3 separate regions of the Homo sapiens genome follow, and all the other regions are linked to region 3. The links come from fine-mapping of genetic effects on gene expression. A gene starts in region 3. Each other region holds a variant in brackets. All regions are shown on one strand. Distances are from middle to middle.

Region 1 (4,108 bases), 120 kb before region 3:
CCTGCCTTCATGTCCAACCACATTTCTGATGGAGCCCAGGGGACTTCCGCCAGTACCTCCCCTCTTCAGAGAGCCCCCGTCCTGTCTGCAGAGCCATCAAGAGGACCCTCGCCGAGGGAAGCTGCCTGCCGCTGGTGATAACCAGAATCGGTCGTGGGGAGGAGGTGGCCATTCCCCCTGAAAGTCCTAATGGTCTCGCAGGGTCGGGCCACGGAACCGTCTCCAACCACTCATCCCCTGTGCAGAGGCCAGAAGGGAGCTTTCGTCATGCTAACTGGGTTTGATTTTTATCTTCCCAGGCACCTCCTCTCACTGGTCTTTCTCATGGCAATCATCACAGTTCATTTAAAAGTATTTCCACCCCATTTGTCTACCGGTGCAAGCAGTCACTCTAGCCAGCTAAATCAGTCCCTTTAAAACTTTATCTTGCTAATTCCAAAGTACTCCATCATCTCCATATCCAGACACTGAGAGGCTCAGCCTGCAGACATCTGCCTAACAGAGCAGCTGGCGGGCTAAACACATAAATTAATGCAAAGTCCTGGTTGGTCAACACCTGGTGCAGCTCTTCCTCCAGGCACTTCTCAGGGACGAAGCTTGCTTTGAGCTGGCCATCCAGCGTCTGTCCCTCCTGGTCCGCTACCGTGAGCTCTTGACTCCACCTGGCTCCACGCCCCCTGCCCCATGTCTTCCCTTAGCCAGGAGCCAGTGTCCTTGGGCAAGCACAGTGCCCATAAGCCGAGCAGACCCCTGGAAACCCACCGCCAATTAGAACTGTTCCTCACTGGAAAGACTGCCTAGACAAACCACCTAAAACCCAGGACGTGAGGACTCCCAGCTCCCCACCCAGACCCCAGCCAGAAGCCACGGCAAGCCGTCAGTGTCGAGCAGAGGGCCCCTGCAGGAAGACTGGGAAGGTCTAAATCTAAGCTCATTAACAGGCCAGAGGGTGAGAGAGAACACAGAGGTGCAAGACAGGGAGGGGATGGAAGCCAGCACGTGGGTCAAAGACGAGGCCATGGGGGAAACACCCGCTCATACGACACAAGCATCCTGCCTGCTGGGCTGGAAATCCCGAAATTTCCCCAGTATTCCTGGAAGCATCAAGGCTCCCACAGAATACAGTGGCACTTCCCATAAGACACTGGACCCAGATACCTCCTGTCTCAAGGAGCCCACCGCCTCCAGGGCCCCACTGAGCGGCCGTTCATGCTGAGAGCTGCGCTGGAGAAGCCTGTGTGAAGGCTGCTGCGGTCACCTGGGAACCCTCAGGAGCCCCAGAGTGTGCACTTTTGTCCATTCCTAAATATTCCTTCCATAGACTTACTGTGAAGATCCAACCAGACCCTCTGAGCTTTGCTAACTTTCAGCTCTGTGCAGTGCACGAAGTGGTTCTGAAAAAGCATCTGCTCCAGTGCCTGGCTGCCTTGGGATCACCTGGGGATTCCTCGTGTATTGGTCAGGTCCCTGCAGGAAACAGAGGGCACCCCAATGGCTAATTTGCAGAGCAGTTAAGAGAGAGTTACTCAGGAAGCTGTGCACAAGGGACAGTGCAGTTCCCAGAGGTTGGAACAGTGGGTGCATTTATCACCCCTGAGTAATCATGCGTTTTATGTTTTCTTTCTTTTTTTTTGAGACAGAGTCTCGCTCTTGTCACCCAGGCTGGAGTGCAGTGGTGCGATCTCAGCTCACTGAAAGCTCAGCCTCCTGGGTTCAAGTGATTCTCCTGCCTCAGCCTCCTGAGTAGCTGGGATTACAGGCACCCACCACACCTGGCTAATTTTTGTATTTTTAGTAGAGATGGGGTTTCGCCATGTTGGCCAGGTTGGTCTTGAACTCCTGACCTCAGGTGATCTACCCGCCTCGGCCTCCCAAAGTGCTCGGATTACGGGTGTGAGCCACTGTGCCTTGGCCTGCTTTTTATATTTTCTGATGCTGTGAAACATCTCTGGGCCTTGCTGGCCAGGGAGAGACTCCCTTCCTGGGGCTAGCTAACTCCTAGAGATAGCAAGCACCTTGCCTTTGGACCTGCCTCTCCCTATCAAACCAACCAAGCCAAAGCTGTGCCCCAACCACCCGCTTTATGTAACTCTCACACCCCTGCCCTCATCACCCATGGGCCAGGTATGTGACAGCTAGAGACCAGCCCTGTAGCCCAGAGCCCACTGGAATTATTTGAACTGGCCAATCCGAACCCTGCTCAGCTTGCCTCGCCCCTCCCTTCCCACAGTCCATGCCCCAGCTCCTTCCACCCCCTGACTGACTCCGGTGCTTCCCCATATGGTCCTGTTGTGCTGTCGAATCGTCAGTAAGAAACTCTTCTTTCAAGCA[G/A]TTGTCTCCATGGTTGTCATCTTAATCCATGGCTGATTAAAATCCTGGGTGCAGGCCGGGCCTGGTGGCTCACACCTCTAATCCCGGTGCTGTGGGAGCTCAAGGAGGGAGGATGGCTTGACCTGGGGAGGTCGAGGCTGCAGTGAGCTATGATCATGCCAGGGCAACAGCGTGAGACCCTGTCTTAAATAAAAATCCTGGGTATTGTTTAAAACAACCCCAAGGACTGCAGGCGCTGAAGAGAGGAAGCTGCATGGAAAAGCTGTGGGAAAGGGGCTTGAAGGAACATCCCTTTGCTGATCCATCCTGACTCTCAGTCGAATCAACTGAGACCCAATGGGGAGCCACAGTCTATCCCAATGTGCACTTTTGTCCCAATGGGGAGTCAGCCTCCTGGGGCCCAGAGCAGGTGGATAAGGGTGTGGGGCGCACCTGGAGGAGCAAGTGAGGTGCCAGCATGCTTTGGTTCTACTCCAAGAAAGTCTGATTCCGGAGTTCTTGGATGGGGCCCAGTAATTTTTCTTAAATGCTTCCCAGCTATTTCTGATGCACAGTCAGATATGGCTTATACATTATGAAAGGTAAGGCACTGTCAATATTAATAATATTAGCAACGGCTGCAGCAGCATCCATGGGTGCCAGGTGCTTATAATGCATCAGTCCTAATTTCCACCCCTTAAAGGTAAGTGTTAGTATTCCCATTTTGTAGATGGGAAATGTGAGGCTCTGGCTGCTTAAGTGACTTGCCCAGCATCGCACAGCTTGTCAGTGGAAGAGCTGGGATTTTTATCCAAAAGCCAGTGAACAGTCAGCCCTCCATATCCATGGATTCCACATCCACGGTCTCAACCAACCGCAGATTGAAAATATTTTTAAAAAATACACAGGCAGGACACAGTGGCTCATGTCTGTAATCCCAACACTTTGGGAGGCTGAGGCAGAAGGGTTGCTTGAGCCTGGGAGTTCAAGACCAGCCTGGACAACAGAGTGAGACTCTATCTCTACAAAAATTAAAAAATTAGCGGATGTGGTCACACGCACCTGTGATCCGAACTACTCAGGAAGCTGAGGCGAGAGGATCGCTTGAGCCCAGGAGGTCAAGGCTGCAGTGAGCTGTGACTGTGCCACTGCACTCCAGCCTGGGTGACAGAGCAAGACTCTCTTCGCCATCCCCCCAAAAAAAATCATAATAAAAATCACAACACAACAAAAAATCATACAAATAAAAATACAGTAGAACAATATTTACATAGCTTTCACACTGTATCAGGTATTATAAGTAATCTAGAGACTTAAAGTATGAGGGAGGATGTACTTAGGTTAAATGCAAGTACACGCCATTTGACTTTATTTTTGTAGAGACGGTCTCACTCTGTCACCCAGGCTGGAGTGCAGTGGCACAATCACAGCTCACTGCAGCTTTGACCTCCCAGGCCCAAATGACCCTCCTACCTCAGCCTCCAGAGTAGCTGGGACTACAGGCATGAGCCACTACATCCGGCTAATTTTTTTTTTTTTTTTTTTTTTTGGTATTTTTTGTGAAGATGGGGTTTTGCCATGTTGCCCAGGCTGGTCTTGAACTCCTGGGCTCAAGCAAACCACCCACTTCAGCCTCCCTGAGTGCTGGGATTATACTATGCCATTTTATATGAGGGATTTGAGCATCTCTGGATTTGGGTACCTATGAGGGATCCTGGAACCAATGCCCTGAAGATACCAAGGGACGACTGACTATACTGTTTCTACTCTTCCAACATTCACCTATGATCAGCCTTAC
Region 2 (4,108 bases), 350 kb before region 3:
TCCAGGCCACCTTGCCTGGCCTCCCCGGTCCTGCCCATTTCCTCCTATCTTCCCTCCCCCCACTCCCTCTCAGTGGGCCAGTTGGGACAATATCCCAGGGGGCACTGATGGCTTTGCCCTGCCTGGTCCAGGTGTCAGTTGAGTCCATGTGACCCACAGGATGGGTTATACACCATCACCCAGGACCACAGCCCCACGCCTCACATGCAAGATGGGAGAGTCAAAACCAGGGTCATGATGGGAAACCTGGCTATTCAGTCACTGTGCGAGAAGCCGCAGACACCCAGAGGTTTGAGTGACAGCACCCAGGCTCTGGGGCCCTCCCATTCCCCCACCCTCCCCTGCCTCTCCCAAGCCTGCCCTGGAGACTTCCCTGCACGGTACCTTATGCCAGCAGCCAGGCACAGGCAGCCCGTCGGGGCCCTGGAAAGGAAGAAGGTTTCAGTGATGGGGATGGGGCCTGGGGAGCTCCTCTACACCCCACATGCCCTCCCCTGGTCTGTAGGGAGGTGCAGGCCAGGGAGCGGCCATGTGAGACTGCTGGGCCCCACTGAGGCAGGGGCACAATGCCTCCTCTGTCCACCCAGGTAGTGGGGTCATGGGGTCATGGGGAACGACGGCCTCTCACTGAGCTTGTCCTGAGTGTGTTCCCTCTGTGCTTTGTGGGGACTGCTGTGCAGTGGGCAGGAACAGGAGGGCACTAGGAAGGGATGAGCATTGTGCCAGACATGTACAGGCTGGCCTGGGTCCTGCCGAGAGCCGTGTGGCTTCCTGTCTGATGTGACAGTGACTCTGGCCTGGGTCCTGCCGAGAGCCGTGTGGCTTCCTGCCTGATGTGACACTGACTCTGGCCTGGGTCCTGCCGAGAGCCGTGTGGCTTCCTGCCTGATGTGACACTGACTCTGGCCTGGGTCCTGCCGAGAGCCGTGTGGCTTCCTGCCTGATGTGACACTGACTCTGGCCTGGGTCCTGCCGAGAGCCGTGTGGCTTCCTGCCTGATGTGACAGTGACTCTGGCCTGGGTCCTGCCGAGAGCCGTGTGGCTTCCTGCCTGATGTGACAGTGACTCTGGCCTGGGTCCTGCCGAGAGCCGTGTGGCTTCCTGTCTGATGTGACAGTGACTCTGGCCTGGGTCCTGCTGAGAGCCGTGTGGCTTCCTGCCTGATGTGACGGTCACTCTGGCTCCTCACCCTGGGGCCTGCGAGCTTTCAGGCCTTGGGCAGGAATGGCTCCTGGAGGGTTTTAAGGATGGCCCAGGAATTGGCATCCTGCTCCAGCCTGTGCTGGCTGGAGCAGGGCAGGCTCAGGTTGCTGGGGGTTGGGGCTGGGCCTGGGGTAGGGCTATCTAGCGGCACCTGTGGTGCCCACCCAGGAGCCAGACATAAGCAGGGGCCGGGTTTCCTCAGGCAGCCTGGAGGGTGGGGAAACTGGAGAGGAACGAAGACTGACTCATCAGGGACACCAAGGCGCAAAACATGTCATTCTGTTCCAAAGCACAGGAATGAGCCTCAGACACTGGGCATCCCCTGGAATATTCCCATGTGTACACCAGGGACCAGGCTAGGCACCAAAGGGAAGGTGGGGAGGGGGGCAGAATGGAAAGGAAGCAGAAGCGAGGAAGGCCGGGGCAGAGCCAAGGGCCCTGGCTGCCCCGAAGGCCCACACAGCACACGGCACACGGCACACAGCAGGCCAGGCCGCCTACCGCAGGGCATGGCCCATTGCCCCTCGCAGGGCCCCGCCAGCCTGGTGCCCCTCTCCGGCCTCCGCACGTGGGATTCTCCTGTTTCAAAGGAGACAAGGGCTTACTGATTTGGAGGGGAGTCCTGGGCCAGGCCCCGGAGCTGCGGGGCTGGGCCACCCTGCCCCTGCTGTCCCCGCCCTT[T/C]CTGTGCGCTGACCACTTCGCTCTTCAAGTCCTTTTCTCATTGACTTCTCAAAACTGTCCGAGGGGAGCGGTATCCCCCACTGCAGGGATAAGGACACTGAGGAACAGAGGCCAGAGGTCTGGGAGGGGGTCTCTAACTCTGGCACCGCTGGAGGTTGAGGCCGGCCTGCACACATCCCCGTGGCTGGAGTGGCCACGTCTGAATATCTGTCCAGTTTTAGTACGAAAACCCAGCTGTTCTGTTTTTCCTGTCTTTTCTGAGCTCCACCGGAAGAGTGTGACATGTAAACCCTCCCTACTTTCTAGAAAAAGGAACTAGGCAGGGCACAGTGGCTCACACCTGTCGTCCCAGCACTCTGGGAGGCTAAGGTGGGACAATCGCTTGAGCCCAGACCAGCCTGGACGACATTGCAAGACCCCAGCTCTACAAAAATTAAAAATTAGCTGGGCATGGTGGTGCATGCCTGTAGTTCTTGGCTACTTGGGAAGCTGAGGCAGGAGGATCACTTGAGCCTGGGAGATGGAGGCTGCAGTGAACCATGATCGCTCCAGCCTGGGCGACAGAGTGAGACTCTGTCTCCGAAAAGAAATAAATGGAGCTGACTTTTGAACTGTGGTTGTTTCAGGCACCAGTGCCTGAAACCACTGGGGCTGGTGGGCTGCCAAAGGCCACTGAGAGAGCACAGAAAGAGGTACAGGAAGGGTGTGGGGGTAGGCAGAGGGGATGTGGGGAAGAGGGAGGTGCTGCCCCAGCCCAGAGAGACTCTTCTGGGAAGGAGGAAGGAAGGGGAGGCACAGCCAGCCAGAGAGGTCAGGGTGGTCCCACCGTCTGTGCTTGGGGAAGCTGAGTTTCAGCTCAGCTTGGCCTCAGGCCCAGTGGGAGTCAGACCCCGACTTCCACCCCAGGCAGCCAGACCACAGCGATGGGGCTGGGCACTCACTGCCTCCGCCCCCAGCGGCAGCGTGTCTGTGCTAACTTTGGTTCCCTCCGCAGGGCCCAGCCCCCTCCCAGGGCACCGCTGATGGTGCTGATGACTCCAGGTAAAGCCCCTCCACTCCTGGTCTAGGCCCTGTCCACTTCCAGCCCAAGATGGCCCACAGTGGGTTCCTACTCAAGCCAGGCCTGTCCTGGGGGTGAAGAATGAGGGGCTGGGCCTCCAGCTCTACAGAGGGGCTGGGTTCCCTGAGTCATGCCCATGGTTGGGGGTGGTTAGGACCAGAGCAAGGGGAACCGCGATGATGGCAGTAGCAGCAGCAGTGGCCCTGACAGTGAGGAAGGCCAGTGCGTGACCAGTGGGGCCTCTGGGACTTGCAGCTGAGTTCCGAGGACAGGGAAGATGTTGGGCTGACCCTGGCTGGAGGCCAAAAAGACCTGGGGCAGGGCCCTCCTCCGACACCTACCACGGGACACGGCTGGTCCAGGCCTGGTGGTCCCGGCTCGCCCTTCTGGCCCTTCACTCCTTTCCGGCCGGGGACCCCTCGTTCTCCCTGTGCAGGAGGGGAGATGGTGGTATTGGTCATGGCTGCCAGGCTTAGGAACCTCCAACATCTCTCCGAGAGAAGCGCGTGGGGCCAGCCTCCCCCTGCCTCCGCCCACCTGCCCGGCCTGGGTTCTCTCTACCTGCTTCACCTGAGCCTCCACTCCCACCTGCCTCCTTCCCCCTCTCCTCCTGCCCCAGCTCCCGTCCAGCTGCCCTCACCTTCTCTCCACGCTCGCTCCGATCACCTTTCTCTCCTCGGGGTCCAGGGAAACCCTGACAAAAGGATTAGATGCTAAACCCGAAAATGAGGCTGGAGGTTTGCCCCTCTGTTACCGGCTCATCTCTGTTCCTCTCCCATCCACACGCCCACTTTCCCCCCTGCATATTCGTGGCACACGCTGGCCTAGCCCTAGCTGTAGGTGATACACTGCTGGGTACAAGGCTGATGTAGGAAGAGCATGCATTTACGATGCCAGCTGGGCTTGCTCCAAAGTAGTCGCTGGACACCAACACTCAGGCAGAGCTGCTGGCAAGGGGCTGTCTCTCACATCACAGACGCGGCTGGCACTGGTCTAGGCTTGGCTGGGGACAGAGACCCCGGAAACCATGGAAGTTATGTCACTGTCTGATGGGATGAGAAATGGTGATCTCTGTTCTGTGCCCTTGGCTCAACTTCCTGCACACCCATCTGTCCATTCATCTATCTGTCCGTCCACCCAACCAAGGTGGCTTAACATCCACTA
Region 3 (4,108 bases):
TCTCTCCCGCTGAAGTTCAGGACTCAAAAATCAACACTTCCCAGCAGTGGCTGCCTGCCCAGGATGCCCCTCCCTCCTAAAATAGACACAATTTGTAGTTCCTTGTAAAATGGTTGTATCAGGACTTCTGATTTACTCAATCAGGGCTTGCGGTTTATTTTTAGCAAATAAGAGAGGCCTCCTATGAGAAAGAGCAGCCACACTTATAGCGCTAACAGGTAGAAACTTTACTGGCCCTCTATAAATCAATTCAACACCCTGGTCTCCAGGCATTTGCCAAAAGCTAATGGGCGGCAATTATGAAACCATCGCCAGGAGTTTCCAGCAGGGCTGAGAGAGAGTTTTAAGTCTGCAGGCCCTTTCAAGGGTAAAATAGGAAATCATTTCATGAAGCAGCAATTTTACCCAGAACCCAGCTAGAAGAGATGTGATCCTAGCTTAAATTAAAGTGACTAAGAAACAGGTGGGGTGAACAAGGAGGTGTGGTACGCAAGTCATCTTCTCCCACTTTCCTTTGGAATCCAAAGGAACTCAACATTGGAAACACAGCTGGATACGTTAATAAAGATCCCAGCTGGGCAGTCTAGGGAATTGGGGGTGTACAGGCCAGTGCTCCCTCTCCTCCACCTTGAAACCCTGCCTGTTTTCACACAGCAATTGAGGATGCGCCCTTGGACAGCGACCTTGGGGTCTGGAGCAGCCATCTATCCCAGGAGAAGGAGGAAGGCTCGGCAGGGGAGGCTCTGGCCAGCCCACCAGGGCCTGTCCAGTTTCGTGGGGAGGGGAACTGCCGCACATGCCGCACACAAAAGGCGGAGGCTTTGACCAACATGCTGGGTGAGGGCTTGGAGGACCCAAAGGTGGCTCTTTCTTTGAAGACACACAGCAGCAATCTTAACCCTTAGAAGTGTCACAGAGCCTCATATGAGCTTTCAAGTAAGCTGTGGAAGTCGCGATTCCCAGGTAAGGGACGGGAAACTCCGGATGTCCTGCGAGCCCACACCCCAGATGGCACCGCCTGAAACCAGAATCCAGGTCCTCCACCCCCGATTGTTTCTCCTTCCTCTCATCTTACCAAGTCATGTGGGCGCCCCCACCCCCATCCCCGAGGCCTCAGTGCGACGGTGACCGCTCAGTCTTGGGGCCTGAGCTGCTGGAGACACACTGGAGCACAGCGGGGCCCAGCCCTCGGGCCTGTCTGAGGCTTTCCTCCGCCGTGACCACCGCCTCTCCAGGTGTACCAGCGTTGGTTAGGAACAGTAGGTGCTACTGGTCACAGTCACCAGATACTTCCCACGAGCCTCATCTTTATCCCCGACTCTGGCCGCCGGCGGGAAGCGGCGTGTCCGAGCGCACACCCCGTGGAGACTGACCCTAGGTCTGTTACTCCAAAGTCCCTGGTCTCTCCTTCCCCTTTCTCGCGGCCGCCTGCCTGGCACGGGACCCTGAGGCCGGAGCGGAGACCGCAAAACCCCTTGGGGCCGGCACCCCCTGCCTCCGCCTTGGCGCAGACGTGCCCATCTCTGGGACGGCCCCGAGCGCACGCAGCCGGCGGGCGACCCTCCTCCCAGAGACCTGCACGCTGCCCCCGGCTCCCAGCGTACCGCCACCCTCAACCCGACACACCCAAGTCCGCCCCAGCCACGCGCCAAGACGCTCACCTCCCGCAGCAGGCGCTCCAGGTGCGGCTCGGCCCAGGCGTCCAGGGCGCCTGGCGGCCCCGCGCGCCGCAGCAGCTCCCGCTCCTCCTCGAGCGCCGCCACCCGGCCCTGCAGCGCGGCCGCCTGGACACCCAGCAGCAGGCAGGCAGCCGCCGAGCCCACGGAGAGCAGCAGGCACAGCGCGCTCACCGCCCGGGACCCGGCCGTCGTCGCCGAGCGCCCTCCGCCGCCGCCGCCCGCCGCATTGCCCTTCCCCGCGTCGCCGCCGCCACCGGCGCGCTCGCCTGGGCCCATGGCGCGTTCGTCGCGCGTGGACTCTCCGAGGGGGCGGTGCTGCTGGGGCAGAGGCTGGGTGCGAGAGGAGCAGGCGGGACAGCCCGAGGCACGAGGTCCGCCGGGCGCGGGGGTTAGCCTCCGGGTAGCAGCGGATCGCCGCGCACGCCCCCTTCGCCGCAGCCAGCTCCTCCACAGCGGCCACTTTGGGCAGTTTCCTCTATGCAAATAGACCCTGCCAGAAAAGGAGCAGGGACCCACCCAGGGGAGGAGCGGCCGGGCTGGCCCCGCGCGGCGAGGGGGCGGGGGCGAGGAAGGAGCGAGCTCCTCGGAGCCACCCGTCGGCGCCGGGCTGATCCCACGCGCAGCGCGCACCTCTGCCCTCACCTAGCCCGGGCGCCGGCACCCGCCCCCGCACGCACCTCTGAGGCTTCCCCAGCCCAAGCCCGCACTGTGGACCCCAGAGGTCGGAGGGGAGCCCGGCGACACCGCGCCCCTTCTGCAGCCCACCCCTGGCTGGAGCACCCACCACTCGTGCCTTAGCACATTCCTCTAAACTTGTGAATTACCTTTCTGACACTTGTAAAAGTTCAAAACTTCAAATCCTGCAAAAAACTGAGTGGGTCTGTCCTCGGTGGTGGATTAGCGCCGCTTCGTGGCGGAAAGCGACCTCTGCGCACTCACATTTAGAGAGGCAGGGTCGAGATTGCGCCAAACAGAAATACGCCCCTTAGAATCTTCTCACGAGTTCTTAGCTGCCGGACTTCGGTGCGGGAAACAAAAATGGTAAGACTGTTTCTGGCCTGGAGAGGGCTTTTGAGAAAACTGAGACTATAACGAATGGGAAAGATTCAGAAAATGAACTTCAAGTCTTGTTCAACTGATGACTTAATTCTGTATTAGACGCACAACTTGGCCAAAAATTATGATCTAGTATGCACCACACTTAACCTGTACTGCGATTCTGCTGCAAATTTAAATCACAGGGCTGAGGCAAGAAGGCTGTGGCGTACAGCCTGGGTCCAGAGAACAGAATGAGTGGCACTAACAAGTCTTGGCAGGAAAGGGAAGAACTGCTGGAAGTCAGGCTGGGTTCAGATTCCTACCAGGCATATTCATGTCCTAAATGGGTCCCAAGTAACTCTTTCGCTAACTCCTGTAATACCTAAATGAAACAACAAACCAGCAGTTCAGATCTTTGTGATTTGAGTAACCCCCCAACCATTTTTTTTTAAGAAAAATAACGTTATATCCATCTTCCCTCTCACTCTGGATATCTTCTGGTTGTCTCATTTCTGTGGATACTCACCTTTTAGAACTGTTGAGTGCCTCTGGCTAACATGTTCCATCTCCTTCCCTTAATTCAGAGGGGAACCCCTGAGATGGCCGGGGGTTATGGTTGATAGACTTGGCTCTGTGCTAAAGTCTGGTGTATGCCCAATAGAATGAAAAGTTGGCCTCATTCTGAAAAGAGGCCAACACCCTCTTACAAGTCAGCACTACATTTCTTACAGGCACATAAACTGCACACCACCTACCTATGTTAATGTTACTGCATGTATTGTTTGCCATGTTCCTGAAGCTTCTGTGTATTGAAAAAGCCAAGCTCACTGGCCCCTGGGCCTCTGCCCTTGCCTACCACCTCACTACCTGCATTCCTGCTCTCAGATCGTTAAACGGCAAGCCCCTCCTCATCCTCCAGGTCAAGGTCCTCAACCTCACTGCTTCTAAAAGATCTTCCCAGACTGCCCAATTTAAGGTGGCCCACAAGATTAATCAGGGAATTGGGGCGGCTGAATTAAGATGGAAATACTGTCTGCAACTCATTCTAAAAGGCGAAAAAGAAAATGACTTACTTGTGTCCATTAGGGTCCTGGAAGAATAGATGGCATCCTCAGAGAGGGTGACTCAAGACAGCCTGAATGTAGAGCCACTTCACAAAGTGGAGATCAGAGGGGCCAGCAGGGGAGGCCGAAGCAGCACTCTGCGGGTATTGACAGTGGGAGGCCATTACCATCCCTAACTGGGAACCCTGGGGAACTTGGAGCTATAGAAGAGGGCTGCTCCACAGCACCTGTGGCCCTTGGTTAAGGGGAACAGCCTCTGCAAAGCCATGGCTTGAAAGGGAGGGAGCTCACAGAATAAATACTCAACTGCTCTCTCCTGCTCTCTGA

The links. PIP is the estimated chance that this variant, and not a neighbour inherited with it, causes the effect.
Region 1: its variant is fine-mapped to the expression of COL23A1 in tibial nerve (GTEx, PIP 0.93).
Region 2: its variant is fine-mapped to the expression of COL23A1 in whole blood (TOPMed, PIP above 0.99).

The regions. Positions count from the first base shown.
Region 1 is chr5:178,469,626-178,473,733 of GRCh38, forward strand. The region is part of intron 2 of COL23A1 (collagen type XXIII alpha 1 chain); the gene reads right to left. LOC124901148 (a long non-coding RNA gene) reads right to left here and starts at 3,215. Exons shown (of 2, transcript XR_007059080.1): 1 at 1-3,215. The variant G/A (reference allele first, on the strand shown) is at 2,332.
Region 2 is chr5:178,238,757-178,242,864 of GRCh38, forward strand. It overlaps COL23A1 (collagen type XXIII alpha 1 chain), which reads right to left. Exons shown (of 29, transcript NM_173465.4): 26 at 3,585-3,638; 27 at 3,286-3,372; 28 at 385-423. Among named protein-coding and RNA genes, the nearest start is that of PHYKPL, 8.0 kb to the left of the region's middle. RefSeq lists enhancers at 1-53, 59-108, 2,109-2,228. The variant T/C (reference allele first, on the strand shown) is at 1,885.
Region 3 is chr5:178,588,243-178,592,350 of GRCh38, forward strand. It overlaps COL23A1 (collagen type XXIII alpha 1 chain), which reads right to left and starts at 2,151. Exons shown (of 29, transcript NM_173465.4): 1 at 1,662-2,151. The coding sequence starts at 1,955. RefSeq lists an enhancer at 597-1,497 and a silencer at 2,153-2,352.